Linked DNA regions of Homo sapiens: all the other regions are linked to region 2. Evidence: fine-mapped expression QTL. A gene starts in region 2. Each other region holds a variant in brackets. All regions are shown on one strand. Distances are between the middles of the regions.

Region 1 (6,424 bases), 120 kb after region 2:
GCCGAGATTGCACCACTGCACTCCAGCCCAGGCAACAAGAGCGAAACGCCATCTCAAAAAAAAAAAGAAAAAAAAAATCCAGCCTAGAAGTCAGTGCTTGATTAAAGAAAGAAAAGTACCTAACCGATCCTCATCTTAGGAAAGGGATGACTTGCCCTCCCTCGCCCCCTGGCCCGCAGCAGTGGGTGACCTGGCAGCACAGGCCTGGACTGATGCACGAAGCTCGGTAAGCAGCACACTCACATCTTCATCCTGGCTCGGGTGGATCAACTCCACAAGCCTCTGGATGACCTTCTCTTCATTCAGCCACTGAAAGAGAAAAAGAGGCCTTTCAGTGTCGCTGCTCAAGTCTAAGTAAACAACAGGAACCTTTCCCCTTTGGTGCAGCACTGCACCCGTTTTCTAGAATATAGACTCTTTGCCTGACACACCCCAGACCCAGAAAGAACACACATAACACACAATGACTGAGTTCTGGGAGGTTCTGGGAGTGGCTCAAAAGATGATAAAGGATGACCACCATCCCTCTGTCCTAATGGTGCGTATGTAAGCTCTGTCTTCAGGACTTCTCTCTTAAGGACCAGGGTGCAAATGAGCCACACAAGCTATAGCTCAGGAGCCCCGCTGGATGCTGAAGCCAGAGAAGCCTCAGCTGTTCCCTGCAGCACTGGGGCCTTCCCATGTTGAGGAAGAGTAACTCCACCCTGGAGAGGCTACACGAACACTGTGGGGTAAAGCTCAAGGGCAACGGGGGCCCAGTGTGAGTGTCGGGGTCTGGCAGGCCTGGGCCGTACCTGGCTACCGCACCGCACTGCTGCGCCCTGTGCCTAAATTCCTTATCCAAAAATGGGATGAGCTGTCCCCCCGTGGCTACTTCGTGAAGTGAATCAAGTAAAGCAGCTAAAAGGCTGCCTGACGTACAGTTCTGCAGGCTTCCCACTAACGGCTATGACCACAGCTAGTACTGATCCTGTGTCCACTGTGTAAAGGTTGGTGGCGGTCAGTCATTCCTGGTGAGAAGCTCCTCCCTGAGGAAGCATTACTAACCTAAGAGTGAGAGTGGTCATCGGATGAGTCCTGATTCCAGGAGCTGGGAAACAGGCAGAGCGCCTCAGGGTTTACTCTACTCTATTTTAAACTTCACCACAAACAAAGCTGGCCGAACAGTGAGCAGAAGTTTGTCAGCACGGATTTCCTGGGCTTATCTGGGGGGCATCCTCCTCTTTTCGGGAACTGTAGCACCTGTTCTCACTGACTAAACACCATCAGAACAGACGCATCCACACTCCAGGGTAAACAACGGGGCTCTGCAGGGAACTGCTGTCCACCGGGGCTCTCCTGGCAGGCACAGGCCTGGACGCAGGGCTAGCACCTCACTGACCTCCTGCTCTAAGCCACAGGGGTGGGCGCTGGCAGGGGAAAAGGAGGCAGGCGAGGAAAGTCCATTTCGGCCTCTTCACAGAGCCGGAGGCTGGAGACTGCGGGGAGAAGGGACCTCTCTGCTCTGTGCTTCTGAGCGAGTTAAGTCGGGACAGTGGAAAAGGTACAGGCCACAATCCTTGACAAGAACCCCTAACAGCCCCACGGAGAAATGCACGCTAGGTGGAGAGATGGGGGCCGGGCGCCCTGGTGCTCTGAGCTCCTGCACTTAACCAGCTGGCTTCCTGCAGCACCCCTGCCCTCGGGAACGGGGGGGGACTCCCGCACTCACGTGCAGGACGTCCTGCCGGAGCCCGGCTGGCTCCACACAGCTGACCAGGCGCAGCAGCAGGTCCATAAGCGCTGAGGTGCCGATGTGCTTCAACACCAGGCTGATGAACTTGTCCTTCTTCTTCAAAAACGTAATCACCTGAAATCACACACACCTGAGAGGCAGGCGGGGCCGACCCTGACAACCCTGAGACACCTCCTCCAAAAACTCTCATGGGAAAGTTGAACTAGTAATTATATTAAGCAGAAATAACGGAAAGACCCAGACAAGATTGTAAGAAAGCCCCCTCAAGGGACAGGCAGAGTCCTACCAGGCAGTGGTGTATGTGAGGGTCTGGGCGGGGGGGGGGGGGGGGGGGCCACTGCACAGGGACCCCTGTGGCTCTGCACCGACAGGACACAGCTGTCCCAGGTGGGGCAGCACAGGCTGCCGTGAGCAGCTGCCATCCAATACCTACTGGTTCGGGTTTTTCCAACAGAAACGAATGGTATAGACAGAGCTGAGCTGAGCTGATGGCCATCACTGGCAGCCCCAGGCCTAGAACACACATCCAGGGAGCACAGAGTGCACAAGACGCCAGCTGCTGACCAAAACCCATGAGCGGTTGAAGGGGAAAGAAGACTGAGGTTTTAGAAAAGAAAAAGAGGCATCCTGCAGCTGGCTGATGACCAGTGCCAACAAGGTGTAGACAGCTAAGCGTGAGGCCATGGGGGGGCACAGCACCCATCACAGACGCAGTGGGCTGCTCAGACGGCGGATCCAAGGTAACAGTGGAGAAGTGAAGGCTGGGCTCGCTGCAAATTCAGCTCAACTCAGCCTACAGAAATAAGTGTCTGCTATGTCCAGGCTACTGGGCTGGGGGCTGGGGTAGACCCAGCCCTCCACTGGAAACAATGGGAACACAGAGAAGGCCCACCTGGCTGCAGGGCCTCAGCCTCACTCCCCAGTGCTGCAATGAGGAGGGACAGTAGGAAAAGGAGTGGTGGGAAAAGAGAAGGGGAAGAAGGAAGAGGAGGGGGTAGGGGAGGAGGAGAGGAGGATGGCTCTTTGAAAAGGATGATTAAACTTCTAGAAAGACGAAGGACAAAACAGAAGGTACAAATAACAATATTAAGAATGAAACAAGGGGCATCGCCAAAGATCCTACAGAAATAAAAACTATTATGAGAGGTTTGTAGTTTTGTTTTTATGTTTTTGAGACAAGGTCTTACTCTGTCCCCCAGGCTGGAGTGCAGTGGTGCGATCATAACTCACTGCAGCCTCCACCTTCTGAGCTCAAGTGATTCTCCCACCTCAGCCTCCCAAAATGCTGTAATAATAAGCAGGAGCCACCACACCTGCTATATTATGAGAAATTAATAGAAACAATTTTATGCCAGTTTTTGTAAATTTAGAAAAGAAATTTCCTTGAAAAAAAATACTTATCTGGCCAGGTGCGGTGGCTCACGCCTGTAATCCCAGCACTTTGGGAGGCCGAGGTGGGTGGATCACCTGAGGTCAGACCAGACTGAGGTCGAGACCAGCCTCAACATGGAGGAAACCCCGTCTCTACTAAAAATACAAAATTAGCCAAGCGTGGTGGTGCATGCCTGTAATCCCAGCTACTCGGGAGGCTGAGGCAGAATTGCTTGAACCTGGGAGGCGGAGATTGCGGTAAGCCAAGATCGCACCATTGCACTCCAGCCTGGGCAACAAGAGCAAAACTCTGTCTCAAAAAAAAAAACAAAAAAAAAA[G/AG]GACTTATCTAGGCCAGGCGCAGTGGCTCACACCTGTAATCCCAACACTTTGGGAGGACGAGGCAGGTGGATCACCTGAGGTCAGGAGATCAAGACCATCCTGGCTAACATGGTGAAACCCCGTCTCTACTAAAAATACAAAAAAAATTAGCCGGGCATGGTGGTGGGCACGTGTAATCCCAGCTACTCGGGAGGCTGAGGCAGGAGAATAGCATGAACCCAGGAGGCAGAGCTTGCAGTGAGCCGAGATCACGCCACTGCACTCCAGCCTGGGTGACAGAGCAAGACTCCGTCTCAAAAAAAAAAAAAAAAAAAAAAAAAAAAAGGACTTATTTAAACTGACAAGAAACAAAATCAGAATAGTTCCAGAACATACTAAAACTCCACAAAATCTATAATTAATAGGCTCTCTATACAGAGAAGGTTTAATGGCCTAATAAATTCTTCCAAACATTTAAGAAAAAATAACCCCAGGCTGGGCATGGTGGCTCATGCCTGTAATCCTGGCACTTGAGGGAGGTCAAGGCAGGCGGATCACTTGATCTCAGGAGTTCAAGGCCAGCCTGGCCAACATGGTCTCTACTAAAAATATAAAAATTAGCAAGACGTGGTGGTGGGTGGCTGTAATCCCAGCTACTCGGAATGTTGAGGCATGAGAATTGCTTGAACCCAGGAGGCAGAGGTTGCAGTGAGCCGAGATCACACCACTGCACTCCAGCCTGGGGGATAGAGTGAGAGTCTATCTCCAAAAAAAGAAAAAATAACCTCTATTTTTTTTGAGCCCATAATGATCGATGGATCATATTCACACATTCACATCAATATTCTAGTTGTGATATTCTACTAGTGTTTTAGAAAATGTCACCATTGGAGGAAACATGTCAAAGCATACAAGGATTTTGTTTGTTTTTTTGAGATGCAGTCTCACTCTGGCCCAGGCTGGAGTGCAGTGGCGCAATCTCGGCTCACTGCAAGCTCCGCCTCCTGGGTTCATGCCATTCTCCTGCCTCAGGCTCCCGAGTAGCTGGGACTACAGGCACCCATCACTACGTCCAGCCAATTTTTTGTATTTTTAGTAGAGACAGAGTTTCACCGTGTTAGCCAGGACGGTCTCGATCTCCTGACCTTGTGATCCGCCCGCCTCGGCCTCCCAAAGTGCTGGGATTACAGGCGTGAGCCACTGCGCCAGGCCTTGTTTTTGTTTGAGACAGTCTCCCCTTTGTCGCCCAGGCTGGAGTGCAGAGTCACAATCTCGGCTCACTGCAACCTCCACCCTCGGGTTCAAGTGATTCTCCTGCCTCAGCCTCCTGAGTAGCTGTGATTACAGGTGCCGGCCACCACGCCCAGCTAATTTTTGTATTTTTAGTAGAGACAGGGTTTCACCATGTTGGGCCAGGCTGGTCTCAAACTCCTGACCTCAGATAATCCGCTTGCCTTGGCCTCCCAAAATGCTGGGATTACAGGTGTGAGCCAGCACGCCTGGCCTTTTTTCTTTTTTTTTGGAGACAGAGTCTCGCTCTGTTACCTAGGCTGGAGTGCAGTGGCCCAATCTTGGCTCACTGCAACCTCCGCCTTCAGGTTCAAGTGATTCTCCTGTCTCAGCCCCACCAAGGAGCTGGGATTACAGGCGTGTGCCACCACACCCAGCTAATTTTTATATTTTTAGTAGAGACGGGGTTTCGGCATGTTGGCCAGGCTGCTCTCAAACTCATGGGCTCAAGTGATCCACTCACCTCGGCCTCCCAAAGTGTTGGGTGGAGTGAGCCACTGCTCCTGGCCAAGGATTTTCTTCATATTATTTCATACAACCTCATGTAAATACAGTAATCTCAGTCAAAATTTCAATTAAAAAGATACCATTTAAAGGCCGGGTGTGGGGGCTCACACCTGTAATCCCAGCATTTTGGGAGGCCAAGGCCGGTGGATCACCTGAGGTCAGGAGTTCAAGACTGCCTTGCCAACATGGTGAAACCCCATCTCTACTAAAAATACAAAAATTAGCGGGTCATGGGGGCAGGCACCTGTAATCCTGGCTACGCGGGAGGCTGAGGCAGGAGAATCACTTGAACCAGGGGGCGGAGGTTGCAGTGAGCCGAGATTGTGCCCCTGCACTCCAGCCTGGGAGACAAAAGGGAGACTTTGTCTCAAACGAAAACAAAAACAAAATCCTTGTATGCTTTGACATGTTTCCTCCAATTGTGACATTTTCTAAAACACCAGTATAATATCACAACTAGAATACTGATGTATGTGAATATGATACATTGATCATTATGGGCTTGAAAAAAATAAGAGGTTCTTTTTTCTTTTTTTTGGAGACAGAATCTCACTCTATCCCCCAGACGGGAGGCTGAGGCACGAGAATCCATGAGAATCGCTTGAACCCAGGAGGTGGAGGTTGCAGTGAGCCAAGATTGCGCCACTGCACTCCAGCCTGGACGACAGAGCAAGACTCCGTCTCAAAAAAAAAAAAAAAAAAAAAAAAAGACACCACTCAAAATAATACAAAGATATCAAATACCTAAGAATAAATCTAGTGAAAGATGCTTAAGACTGCCATACAGAGAACTGCAGTGTATTTCTGAGAAATCAAAGTAGCCTGAGCTACCAGCTGTGCTGCTGTGGTGTGAAAGGAGCCCCGGGCAGCGTGCACAGGAATGGAAGTGGCTGTGCTACACTAAGACCTCACTCACACAATCAGTGATGGCTGCTTTTGGCCTGTGGACCACAGTTTGTCAGACCCAACTACAGCCAATGCAAACCTCATCAAAATTTCAGTAGGTTTATTTTTGGGGGGCAGGGTATGGAGAGGGAGAATGTAGAAAGTGACAAACTCATTCTAAAATTTGCTTATTCTAAAACAATAAAAAAGAGAAAGCAAAAATTAAAAAATAGAAAAGAAAAAAAATAAAAACAAAAAACAAAATAGGCCGTGTGCAGTGGCTCACACCTGTAATCCCAGCACTTTGGGAAGCTGAA
Region 2 (5,274 bases):
CCGCGCTATGGGCTCGGACGCCTGGGTGGGCCTTTGGCGGCCACACCGGCCCCGCGGCCCCATCGCGGCGCACTACGGAGGCCCCGGGCCCAAATACAAGCTGCCGCCCAACACCGGTAGAAGGGGCAGGCCCCGGGATTGAGGGGTGGGACGGCGCCTGGGGGAGGGAAGGGGAAGAGACCAGGGAGGCCTGCGCTCGGGGCTGAACCGTGCCTGCTAGAGGGGAGAGGGGGTCTGTGCCGGGGGAGGGTCCGTGTTGCAGATGGGGCTTGGGGCTGGGCCCGGCCAGACGCTAACTCGGATGCTCCCAGGCTACGCCCTGCATGACCCGTCGCGGCCGCGCGCCCCCGCCTTCACCTTCGGCGCGCGCTTCCCCACGCAGCAGACGACGTGCGGCCCCGGGCCAGGCCACCTGGTGCCCGCTCGCATGACCGTGCGCGGCACCGACGGCGCCCCCGCCTACTCCATCTACGGCCGCCCACGCCGCTCAGCGCCCTTCCTCACTCCGGGACCTGGTCAGGACCCCCGGGCCCCTGGCCACCCCAACGCCGAACTGCCTCCAGGGAGGCCCACCTGGGAACCCCCGACCTGAACCCCGAGTCCCCCTCGGATACCCTAACACCGCATATTCGGTACCCCCATATCCGGATCTCAAATCCCAAACCCCGAACCCCACGGGGCTTTGATAAATCGTGGCTCAGACTCCCCACTAGTCCCAGGACCCCATCTCGGGTACCCACCAGGCTCCCACGCAGTTCTAGCCCCCCACACCCTTGATCCGCCCCGCAGGCAGGTACTTCCCGGAGCGAGCGGGGAACGCGACGTACCCCAGTGCGCCTCGGCACACCATTGCTCCCCGAAACTGGGGTGTCCAGGCGGAACAGCAGAGCCCAGGTGAGGTCAGAACGGCCCATCCCAGAACTGTGGGCCTTCCCACTCGAGACCGGGGACCGCCCTCCGGGAGCTGGGACCACCCTGCGCCTGTCCGCGGAGACCCACTACCCCCGAGCCCTGCCTCCTCCCCAGGTCCCGCGGCCTATACGGTGCCCTCGCTCTTGGGTCCGCGCGTCATCGGCAAAGTCTCCGCCCCAACTTGCTCCATCTACGGCCGCAGAGCGGCTGGCAGTTTCTTCGAGGACCTCAGCAAGGTGGGGGAGGGGCCGGGGCGGACGCAGGGGGTCCCTGGTCCGCGGCAGTGGAGGCGGCAGCCAGCACCCTCTGCCCTCTCGCAGACCCCGGGCCCCTGCGCCTATCAGGTCGTGAGTCCAGGGGTCTACAAGTCCCGGGCCCCCCAGTTCACGATTCTGGCGCGGACTTCGCTCCCCCAAGACAACACTCGGAAGCCAGGGCCCGCGGCCTACAACGTGGATCAGGTGGCCTGGAGCCCAGGGTCAAGGGTCAGAGTCAGGAGAGTGGGGAGGGCCTGAGGTCGGAGTGATGGGATCAGAGTCCCCGGGGGTCCAGGGGTCCCGGCGCGGAGAGGATGCCGGCCCCGCGAGGTCAGCGGTGTCTCCGGGCCCGCAGCACCGGAAGCCCCGCGGCTGGAGTTTCGGGATCCGGCACTCGGACTACCTGGCCCCGCTGGTGACCGACGCGGACAACTGACCCGCCAGGCGGGAGCGGCCCCACACGTGTTTGCTTAAAGTCTGCGAGTCCGCATCGTGTCCGCCTCTCTCTCTCTCTCTCTGCGCGTCCTGGCGCAAGGCCTGGGGTGGAGCCACGGCTGGGGCCGTGTCCCAACTCCGAACCCAGCGGGGCGGGGCCCGAGCGTCGGGCGAGGCCGGGACCCCAGCGCTGCGCCGCGTCCGAACGTCGAGACCCCACCGAGGGCGGGAGGGGGACTCTCGGGAGCCACAGACGCCCGAGACCCACGCCGGGCGGGACCGGCCAGGGATCACCCCCGCCGACGGCCCCGGGCCCCGACGGCCCGGAAGTTCCGCGTGTCCGGGGGCACCGGGGGATTGGCCGGGGCGCGGCGTGCAAGGCTTCCCGGGGGCGGCGACTGCCGAGCTCCGCCCTCCAGGCGGCCCCACCCGCCTGCCGTCCTGGGGCGCCGCCGCCCCGCCGCCGGCAGTGGACCGCTGTGCGCGAACCCTGAACCCTACGGTCCCGACCCGCGGGCGAGGCCGGGTACCTGGGCTGGGATCCGGAGCAAGCGGGCGAGGGCAGCGCCCTAAGCAGGTACGGGCGGGGCTCAAGTCGCGAGGCGGGGAAGCGGGAGGCAGACACGGACGAGGGCGACACAGACACGGGACCGAGGGGCGGACACCGGAGAGACACGGGAAAGGGGTCGGGACAGGAGCACGTGGCTCAGACACCGACGCCGGGAGGCCGCAGACCCCGGACGTGTCAGGCATCCCCGCAGGCCCGGAGCGATGGCAGCCTTGATGACCCCGGGAACCGGGGCCCCACCCGCGCCTGGTGACTTCTCCGGGGAAGGGAGCCAGGGACTTCCCGACCCTTCGCCAGAGCCCAAGCAGCTCCCGGAGCTGATCCGCATGAAGCGAGACGGAGGCCGCCTGAGCGAAGCGGACATCAGGGGCTTCGTGGCCGCTGTGGTGAATGGGAGCGCGCAGGGCGCACAGATCGGTGCGTGGGGAGGGTTGGGCGTTCCTGACCCCGACTGGGAGGTCAGCCCGAGAGACTTTGGGTCCCTGGGGGTGCGACGGTGCCCCACTACCAGCACCGGCCCCAGGGTGCCCCACCGCTGTGGGCTGCCACCCTCACGCGTACCCCCACATACCAGGGGCCATGCTGATGGCCATCCGACTTCGGGGCATGGATCTGGAGGAGACCTCGGTGCTGACCCAGGCCCTGGCTCAGTCGGGACAGCAGCTGGAGTGGCCAGAGGCCTGGCGCCAGCAGCTTGTGGACAAGCATTCCACAGGGGGTGTGGGTGACAAGGTCAGCCTGGTCCTCGCACCTGCCCTGGCGGCATGTGGCTGCAAGGTTAGAAACCACCTCCTTTCCAGACGGGAGCCTATACCGCACATGCAGCAACCAGTCCATCCACAGGCAGCTCCCAACCTCAAGCCTGGCCCAAAGCCTCCAAGACCCTACCAAGGCTTCTCCCCACCCTGCTCCCCAGCACAGTTCTCCCCACCCCGTTCCCCAGCACAGCGCTTGGGGCCCCTCTGGCTCCAGACCAGGCCCCTTGGAGCAGGAAAAAGATCCACTGATGGAATTCAGACCCCTTTCCCCTTGGGTCCCCAGACAGCTCCCCCAAGGGAGGAGCTGAGGACTTTCCTCCCTCTGCCCCAAGCCTTGTTTCCCCAAGGACAGGTACCAACCTCCTCCCCTACTGACACTTCTCAACCAAGAAAACTTCCTTTCCATTCCCTCACCAGCTGGGCACCCCTATAGCTGCTTAAATACTTTCCAAATCCAGCTGCACTCCTAGCCAGGGAAGGTGAAGGGATGCACAGAGGTGGGGGAGGGGTACTGTGCAGGGTACTCAGCATCCCTGACCACCAGGTGCCAATGATCAGCGGACGTGGTCTGGGGCACACAGGAGGCACCTTGGATAAGCTGGAGTCTATTCCTGGATTCAATGTCATCCAGAGCCCAGAGCAGGTACGGGGCGCCACGGATCAGTCATTAATCCAGGTTGATGATGGAGACCCTGGCCAGAATCACTAAAAGATCACTGGTGGATCATTAGGGTCACTAATGAGAACACTGGTCAAGGTTACTCATGAGTCACTGGGCCTGGGCCGAAATCATCAGTGGAACTTTGATTAGGATCATAAAATGGGAAGTTGGTCAAAATCACAGATGGCTGGCGGGGCACGGTGGCTCACACCTGTAGTCCTAGCACTTGGGGAGGCCGAAGAGGGCAGATCCCTTGAACCCAGGAGTTCAAAACCAGCCTGGATAACACGGCAAAACCCCATCTCTACAAAATAGTTCGCTGCGTGTGGTGGTGCACGCATGTGGTTCCAGCTACTCAGGAGGCTGAGGCAGGAGGATCACTTGAGCCTGGGAGGTCTAGGCTGCAGTGAGCCGGGACGATGCCACTGCACTCCAGCCTGGGCAACAGAGTGAGACCCTGTCCCAGCACTCTGGGAGGCAGAGGAGCCCAGTTGGAGATCAGCCTGGGTAATATAGTGAAACTTGATCTCTACAAAAAAAAGAAGAAAAAAAAAAGCCGCGTGTGGTGGTGCGCACCTGTAGTCCCAGCTACTGGGAAGCTGAGGTGGGAGGATCACTTAAGCCCAGGAGGCAGAGGTCACAATGAGCCGAAATTGTGCCAACTGCACTCCAGCCTGGGCAACAGAGGAAGACTCTTCACAGAAAAAAAAAAAAAAAAAAAAAAAGCTGCTAAGTCATTTACCATAAGTCACTGAGAACAGGGGATGTCTGACCAGATGCAAGTGCTGCTGGACCAGGCGGGCTGCTGTATCGTGGGTCAGAGTGAGCAGCTGGTTCCTGCGGACGGAATCCTATATGCAGCCAGAGATGTGACAGCCACCGTGGACAGCCTGCCACTCATCACAGGTGACCTGACTCCATGGCCTGCTTCTGCATGTTCACAGGCTCCTGACCTCCAAACTCAAGTCAAGGGCCTCTCGTTAGGAGTTACCCGTCACCTGACCGTGTGCCCCCCTACCCCCATCACAAGATGCCTGACCACCACCATGTGGGGTGGCCTGATACTCAACCCACCAGGTGCTGCCACCCCCATAATAAGGGACTTGACCCTCAATGCTCAGGGCCCCTGACCCCAAAGTCGGCATCCCCGAACTCTCCCAAGAAGCTCCAGGTTCTCCATTGTCTCCAACCTCCTCTGCCTCCCCCAAAGCCTCCATTCTCAGTAAGAAACTCGTGGAGGGGCTGTCCGCTCTGGTGGTGGACGTTAAGTTCGGAGGGGCCGCCGTCTTCCCCAACCAGGAGCAGGCCCGGGAGCTGGCAAAGACGCTGGTGAGCGGTGTGGCCTTTCCCTGGGCAAGCGTCTTGATGCGGGCCCAGCCTACCCTTCACCCCTCCCGTCCCCACTGCCTCCCTCCACTCAGCAGTCCTGCCTAACCCCAGTCCCACCCTCTTCTGCCCGAAGTCCCTCCCTCCTTCACGGCTTCCTAACCTGCTGTGACTTTAGAGGTCAAGGCTGGCCCGGCCTGGACCTGGGGAAGCCCTCTGTGGCGTTCCTGCCCCAGACCAAGTACAAGTTCCTCCTGGCCCCATGGCGAGGTGTCGCACTTCACTCGTGTCTCTTCCCCACCCCAATCCTTCCCTGACTTCATGCTGGGGGGCTGGCAACCCAGGGTGCAGCAGGGG
Region 3 (5,870 bases), 37 kb before region 2:
GCCCTGCTGGACATTGCTGATCTTTTCCAAGTTCCCAAGGCCTACAGCTGAAGGTTGGAGAAATGCCAGCTGCCCTTTCGTCCCCACACTGTGGAGGAAGGGACCTGTGGCAGCTCACAGGCATGAGGGGTGGCCGTGCACAGGTGCCCAGGCTCCAAGGACAGCTCCGGCAGCAGGTCCTCGCTGGGCAGATGCTGCTCCCTGAGGGCCCAGGTGGTGGAGGTGGGGTTGGAGCAGGAAGGGAATTTTGATTTTTTTTTTTCTTGATAGATACTAATAAAAATAAGGCTGTGTAATTTTCTCTCAGCCCTTAGGTACCTGTGTTTTGTTTGGGAACTCGGAGGCCCTCCCCCTCCCCCAGCTCAGACCACAGAGGTGGCAAGAGAAGGGCTGAAGCTGGAAGACTGTTCATGAGGGACTTGTGTGACCTGCTTTGAAATGTGTGACTCTGCTGAGTGACGTAGGCTCTGAGATAGCTGTCCACGCCCACGTGTTTGCTTGGAATAAATACTTGCCTCAGAACCTTCACCTGTTCCCTGGGGCCATTTCTGTTTGTCTGTCTGCTGGAGAGTGAGCCCACCTCCTCCCATGCAGGGGCATGTGTGAGGCACCCCTCTTGGCTGAGGCACAACCCTGCACGGGCCCCGCAGCTTCTTGTCAGCATGGAAAGGGGCTGCAGGCCCAGGCCTGAAGTCTTGAGGCGCCAGGTGGTCATGTCTGCAAGAGGGCACGCAGGATGACCTGTAGCAACAGACACTCCTTCACTGAGGTTGGCTCGGCTGCTAAAATCATGTTAAGAGTAAATACAAAATAATTATTCTTTGTTTTTAAGGCGGAGTTTCGCTCTTGTTGCCCAGGCTGGAGTGCAGTGGCACGATCTCGACTCACTACAACCTCTGCCTCCTGGGTTCAAGCGATTCTCGTACCTCAGCTCCTGAGTAGCTGGGACAACAGGCGCCCGCCATCACGCCCGGCTAATTTTTTGTATTTTTAGTAGAGGCAGGGTTTTACCATGTTGGCCAGGCTGGTCTCGAATTCCTGACCTCAGGTGATCCACCTGCCTCAGCCTCCCAACGTGCAGGGATTATAGGTGTGAGCCACCGCACCCAGCCATAAAAAATAATTTTTATGAAAAGTATAAGTAGGCCCTCAATTACTGTAATTGAAGTGAATTAGATTCAGTTCTGGACCTTCATTTAGGAACCAGTGTCTTCATCTGTTTTTGTTTTTTTCTTTTTTTTCCCATGAGATAGGGTCTCACTATGTTGCCCAGGCTGGTCTCGAACTCCTGAGCTTAAGTGATCCTCCCACCTCGACTTTCCAAAGTGCTAGGATTTCAGGCGTGAGCCACCGTGCCCGGCCAGGAACCAGTGTCTGTTGAACACCCACCATAGACTTGGCCCTGTGCTGGGGATTCAGTGGTAAACAAGGTCCTATTCCTGCCCATGTCGAATTCACTGCTGGGTGAGGCAGGTGTGGTCAGGGGACAGAGCAGCTGGCAGGAAACCAGGAGGCTTTTGGGATAATCCACTTACCAAGTACAGGCATGGGTTGCTTAATGAAGGGGATACATTCTGAGAAGTGCATTGTTAGGCGATTTTGTTGTGCAAAGATTCTAGAGTGCATTTACACAAAGGTAGATGGTGCAGCCTACTACAGACCTGGGCTATGCTGCTTACCCTGTTGCTCCTAGGCCGCATGCCTTTACAACATGTTACCATACTGAATACTGTAGGCAACTGTAATACAATGGGAAGTCTTTGTGTATCTAAACTTGTCTAAACATAGAAAAGGTATAGTAAAAATGTTATATAAAAGATTAAAAATGGCACCCTTATGGCCAGGTGCAGTGGCTCACGCCTGTGATCCCAGCACCTTGGGAGGCCGAGGCAGGTGGATCACGAGGTCAGAAGATCGAGACCATCCTGGCTAACACGGTGAAACAGTGTCTCTACTAAACAAAATACAAAAACTAGCCAGGCATGGTGGCGGGCGCCCGTAGTCCTAGCTGCTTGGGAGGCTGAGGCAGGAGGATGGCGTGAACCCAGGAGGCGGAGCTTGCACTGAGCCAAGATGGCACCACTGCACTCCAGCCTGGGCAACAGAGCGAGACTCCGTCTCAAAAAAAAAAAAAATGGTACCCTTATATAAGACACTTATAAGACACCATGGGCTGGGCGCAGTGGCTCACGCTTGTAATCTCAGCACTTTGGGAGGCCAAGGCAGGTGGATCACAAGGTCAGGAGATCAAGACCACGGTGAAACCCTGTCTCTACTAAAAATACAAAAAATTAGCCAGGTGTGGTGGTGGGTGCTTGTAGTCCCAGCTACTGGGAGAGGCTGAGGCAGGAGAATGGCGTGAACCTGGGAGGTGGAGCTTGCAGTGAGCCAAGATCGCGCCACTGCACTCCAGCCTGGGCGACAGAGCAAGACTCCGTCTCAAAAAAAAAAAAAGAGGAAAAGTAAGTGGAGAGACAAAAGGAGAGGTGGGTGGCAATTTCAGACAGTGGCAAAAGCAAGCCTTCCTGATTGGGGTCCTTTGACCACAGGCCTGAAGGAGACGAGGAGCAAGTCATGTCCCTCATGTCCCTCATGTTCCGTACCTAAGGGCAGAGTATTCCTGGCTGAAGGAACAGCAAGAGCCAAAGCTTTGCGAGCGGTGTCTGCTGTGATGAAGGATGTGGCTAGTGTGGAGTCAGGGATGGGAAGAGCAAGCGGGGCAGCTAGATCGGGGTAACAAGGGCCTCGTAGGCCAGATTCTGGATTTTCTGAATGACGGGGGAAGCTGTTGGGCTTTGAACAGAGGGTGGCATAATCTGTCCTAATTTTAAGGGATCACTGGCTAACCAGGGTGGCGTTAGAACAAAGTAGGACGCAGTAACAGTGGAAGCAAGGAGACCCGCTGGAGAAGTGCTCCTGGTGGTGGTGGAGCTGGAAGAAATGAGCGGCTTAAACTAAGGCAGTGCCATAGGAAAGTAGAATTAAGGAGCTTGGAATGTCAAACGTAGGACTGACAAGTCTAATCAGGAGGAATCAAAGATAACTCATATTTTCTATATTGGGTGATTGGGTGATTAAATTAGGTCTTTAAATGTTGAATTTGACTTGCCTATAAGAAATAGCTGTGAAAATGTCTCAGACTCTTGAAAATATAAATGAAAAGCTAAGGAGAGATCTAGGCTCCTTCTAACAGTTTTGAAGACAGTTAAAACCTT[G/A]AAAGTGCATGAGAGGATTCCCAGGGCAGAGGCTCCTCACCTCCTTCAAGTCTTCATGAGCTATAAGAGTATGCCTCTTGGGGCCGGGCGCGGTGGCTCACACCTGTAATCCCAGCACTTTGGGAGGCCGAGGCGGGCAGATCACGAGGTCAGGAGATCGAGACCATCCTGGCTAATACAGCAAAACCCTGCCTCTACTAAAAATACAAAAATTAGCCGGGTGTGGTGGCACGTGCCTGTAGTCCCAGCTACTCAGGAGGCTGAGGCAGGAGAATCGCTTGAACCCAGGAGATGGAGGTTGCAGTGAGCTAAGATGGTGCCACTGTACTCCAGCCTGGGAGACCGAGACTCTGTCTCAAAAAAAAAAAAAAAAAAAGAGTACACCTCTGCCTGCAAAATGTTACATTCCATATCAGAGCGTTCTTCAGCTTCCAAAAGTATTTCCAGAGACCTCTACCTGTTTGGGTGCCAGTAAGCCTCCCCTGGGAAGGTGCCTGCGTTTTGGTAGTCTTCTGGGGACATCAGCTCACCCCGTCCTGAGATAGCAGTAAACAGAGTTTCCAACAAGCTAGCTTTCAATTAACATCAAAATTCAGCATTAAAGTTCTTTTATCTCATTTGTTCTGGGTTAAAATAGTGAGATGAGGAACAACAGTGGTAAACCAGGGTATAAACCTCTGGAGACTGCTGGGCATGGTAGCTCACGCCTGTAATGCCTGTGCTTTGGGAGGTCTTGAGCCCAGGAGTTCGAGACCAGCCTGGGTGGTGCAGTGAGACCCCATCTCTACAAAATTAAAAAAAAAAAATTAGCCAGGCGTGGTGGCACTTGCCTGTGGCCCCAGCTACTCTGGAGGCTGAGTTGGGAGGATTACTTGAGCCTGAGAGATTGAGGCTGCAGTGAGCCATGATTGACCCACTGCATTCCAGCCTAGGTGACAGAGCAACACCCTGTCTTAAAAAAATAAATAAACCTCTGATGACAACCCAAACCCCAATTAGTTCCCCATGTCCCATAGGTCTGCAGGTCTGCATTAATAAAAGCTAGCAGCCATAACATAAATCCTGAAACCTCATGGCTCAACCCAATAGAAGCTGGACTGTTGGTCAGATAAAATCCAGTTGGCTGAGATGAGGGCTCTGCTCCATACTGTTATTCAAGGATCTATGGTGACAGAGGCCCTGCCTTCAGCAGGTAGTACTCAAGCTGCCTTGGGCATCAACATCATAAGTACGTGGGGAGAGAAAGAGGGGGCCACCTGTGGGAGGCTTTGATGGCCTCAACCTCAAAGTGATACACAGCATTTCCCTCCACACCCTCTGGCTAAAGACTTGTATTTCAAGAGAATCTGAGAAGTAGAGTCTAGCTGTGTGTCCAGGGCGTAAAGGAAACATTTAGTGACAGTTGGTCTCAGATACACAAGGGCATGGGAAGACCAGCCTGACATCTTCCTGGGCTTCATGGCCTGGAGTTTGCAGGGTAGCCCACCTCCAGCTCCTGAGCAGGGTACTCAAGAGCCTGCACATTCCAGCTCAACTGATCTTTCCCGAGTCTTCTCTGTCCCTTACCAAGAACCCTGAGCCCAGAACACACTCGCCATTCCCCAAAGGAGGCAGGCTGAGCCACACCTTCGCCTTTGCCCTAGATGGGCCTTCTGCCTGGAATCCTGTGCCCTTTCTCCTACTCTCTCGGAAGCTGTCTTCCTTAGCCATCAGAATTATTCCTGATTCGGGCCAAGCACAGTGGCTCACACCTGTAATCCCAGCACTTTGGGAGTCCGAGGCGGGTGGATCACCTGAGGACAGGAGTTCGAGACCAGCCTGGCCAACATAGCGAAACCCGGTCTCTACTAAAAATACAAAAACTAGCTGGGCGTTGTGGCATGTGCTTGTAATCCCAGCTACTAGGGAGGCTGAGGCAGGAGAATCACTTGAACCTGGGAGGCGGAGGTTGCAGTGAGCCGAGATCGTGCCACTGCACTCCAGCCTGGGCAACAGAGCAAGACTCCGTCTCAAAAAAAAAAAAAAAGAATTATTCCCTATTCATGTTTCTCTGGGCTGCTGTAACAGAAATCGGCTCTGGGCTGTATAAGCAAATGGAAGTATGAAGAGCAGCTCACAGGTGGAAAGGGATGGCCAGAAAACCGGGTTCAACCGGGGCAGGAACCTGGCAGCTGGCGGAGGGAGTGTGGCCCAGGCAGCAGCCTCCTCAATAAACAAGCGAATGCTCACTCCTTGCCCAGAACTGTCTGGCTCAACCCCAGCCATTTTTCCTCCTCTGCAATCAGGCTGCTAAGAATCAGAATCCCTGAGAGAAAATTCAGGGGGTCTAAGGTTTGTCAGGATTCTCAAACACAAGGTGTTCAAAATCAAAGTTAACCTTCCAAGCTAGCTTCTCCCACTCTTCCACATCTCTGCCAGTGGTATCACCCCGGCCATTAGCCCCTTGCTTCTTTCTCCCTCCCTCCCACATTACCAAGCCCTGTCAAGTCGACCTTGGAATGGCTTTGACCCTGTCCACCACTCAGCCAAACAACAGCAACGGCCGGCCCCGTCGCCACCCGCCTCGGCAGCCAGAGACCTTTTAACTCTGCCACTCGCCTACTTACCACCCTTCTAGGGTGCCCACGTCCCTCTGAAAAAAAAGGCTGAGCTCAG

The links. PIP is the estimated chance that this variant, and not a neighbour inherited with it, causes the effect.
Region 1: its variant is the best candidate, but not a certain one, in a credible set for the expression of TYMP in neutrophils (BLUEPRINT, PIP 0.75).
Region 3: its variant is the best candidate, but not a certain one, in a credible set for the expression of TYMP in whole blood (TOPMed, PIP 0.84).

Annotation. Positions count from the first base shown.
Region 1 is chr22:50,409,977-50,416,400 of GRCh38, reverse strand. It overlaps PPP6R2 (protein phosphatase 6 regulatory subunit 2), which reads right to left. Exons shown (of 24, transcript NM_001242898.2): 5 at 1,712-1,849; 6 at 244-309. Among named protein-coding and RNA genes, the nearest start is that of MIR12114, 5.7 kb to the right of the region's middle. The variant G/AG (reference allele first, on the strand shown) is at 3,446.
Region 2 is chr22:50,526,811-50,532,084 of GRCh38, reverse strand. TYMP (thymidine phosphorylase) reads left to right here and starts at 2,073. Exons shown (of 10, transcript NM_001953.5): 1 at 2,073-2,181; 2 at 2,366-2,589; 3 at 2,747-2,949; 4 at 3,475-3,573; 5 at 4,368-4,497; 6 at 4,802-4,920. The coding sequence starts at 2,376. CIMAP1B (ciliary microtubule associated protein 1B) reads left to right here. Exons shown (of 7, transcript NM_001014440.4): 2 at 1-116; 3 at 312-515; 4 at 790-894; 5 at 1,027-1,148; 6 at 1,233-1,373; 7 at 1,525-1,659. The coding sequence starts at 8. The coding sequence ends at 1,605. RefSeq lists silencers at 66-275, 356-515, 866-975, 1,136-1,365, 1,376-2,225 and 2 more and enhancers at 648-1,153, 2,666-2,825, 4,546-4,695, 4,716-4,915, 4,706-5,274 and 1 more.
Region 3 is chr22:50,563,519-50,569,388 of GRCh38, reverse strand. It overlaps LOC107985568 (a long non-coding RNA gene), which reads right to left. Exons shown (of 2, transcript XR_001755606.3): 1 at 5,822-5,870; 2 at 246-782. It overlaps CPT1B (carnitine palmitoyltransferase 1B), which reads left to right. Exons shown (of 20, transcript NM_152246.3): 19 at 1-53; 20 at 308-528. The coding sequence ends at 51. CHKB-CPT1B (CHKB-CPT1B readthrough (NMD candidate)) reads left to right here. Exons shown (of 30, transcript NR_027928.2): 29 at 1-222; 30 at 308-528. Among named protein-coding and RNA genes, the nearest start is that of SYCE3, 3.5 kb to the right of the region's middle. The variant G/A (reference allele first, on the strand shown) is at 3,216.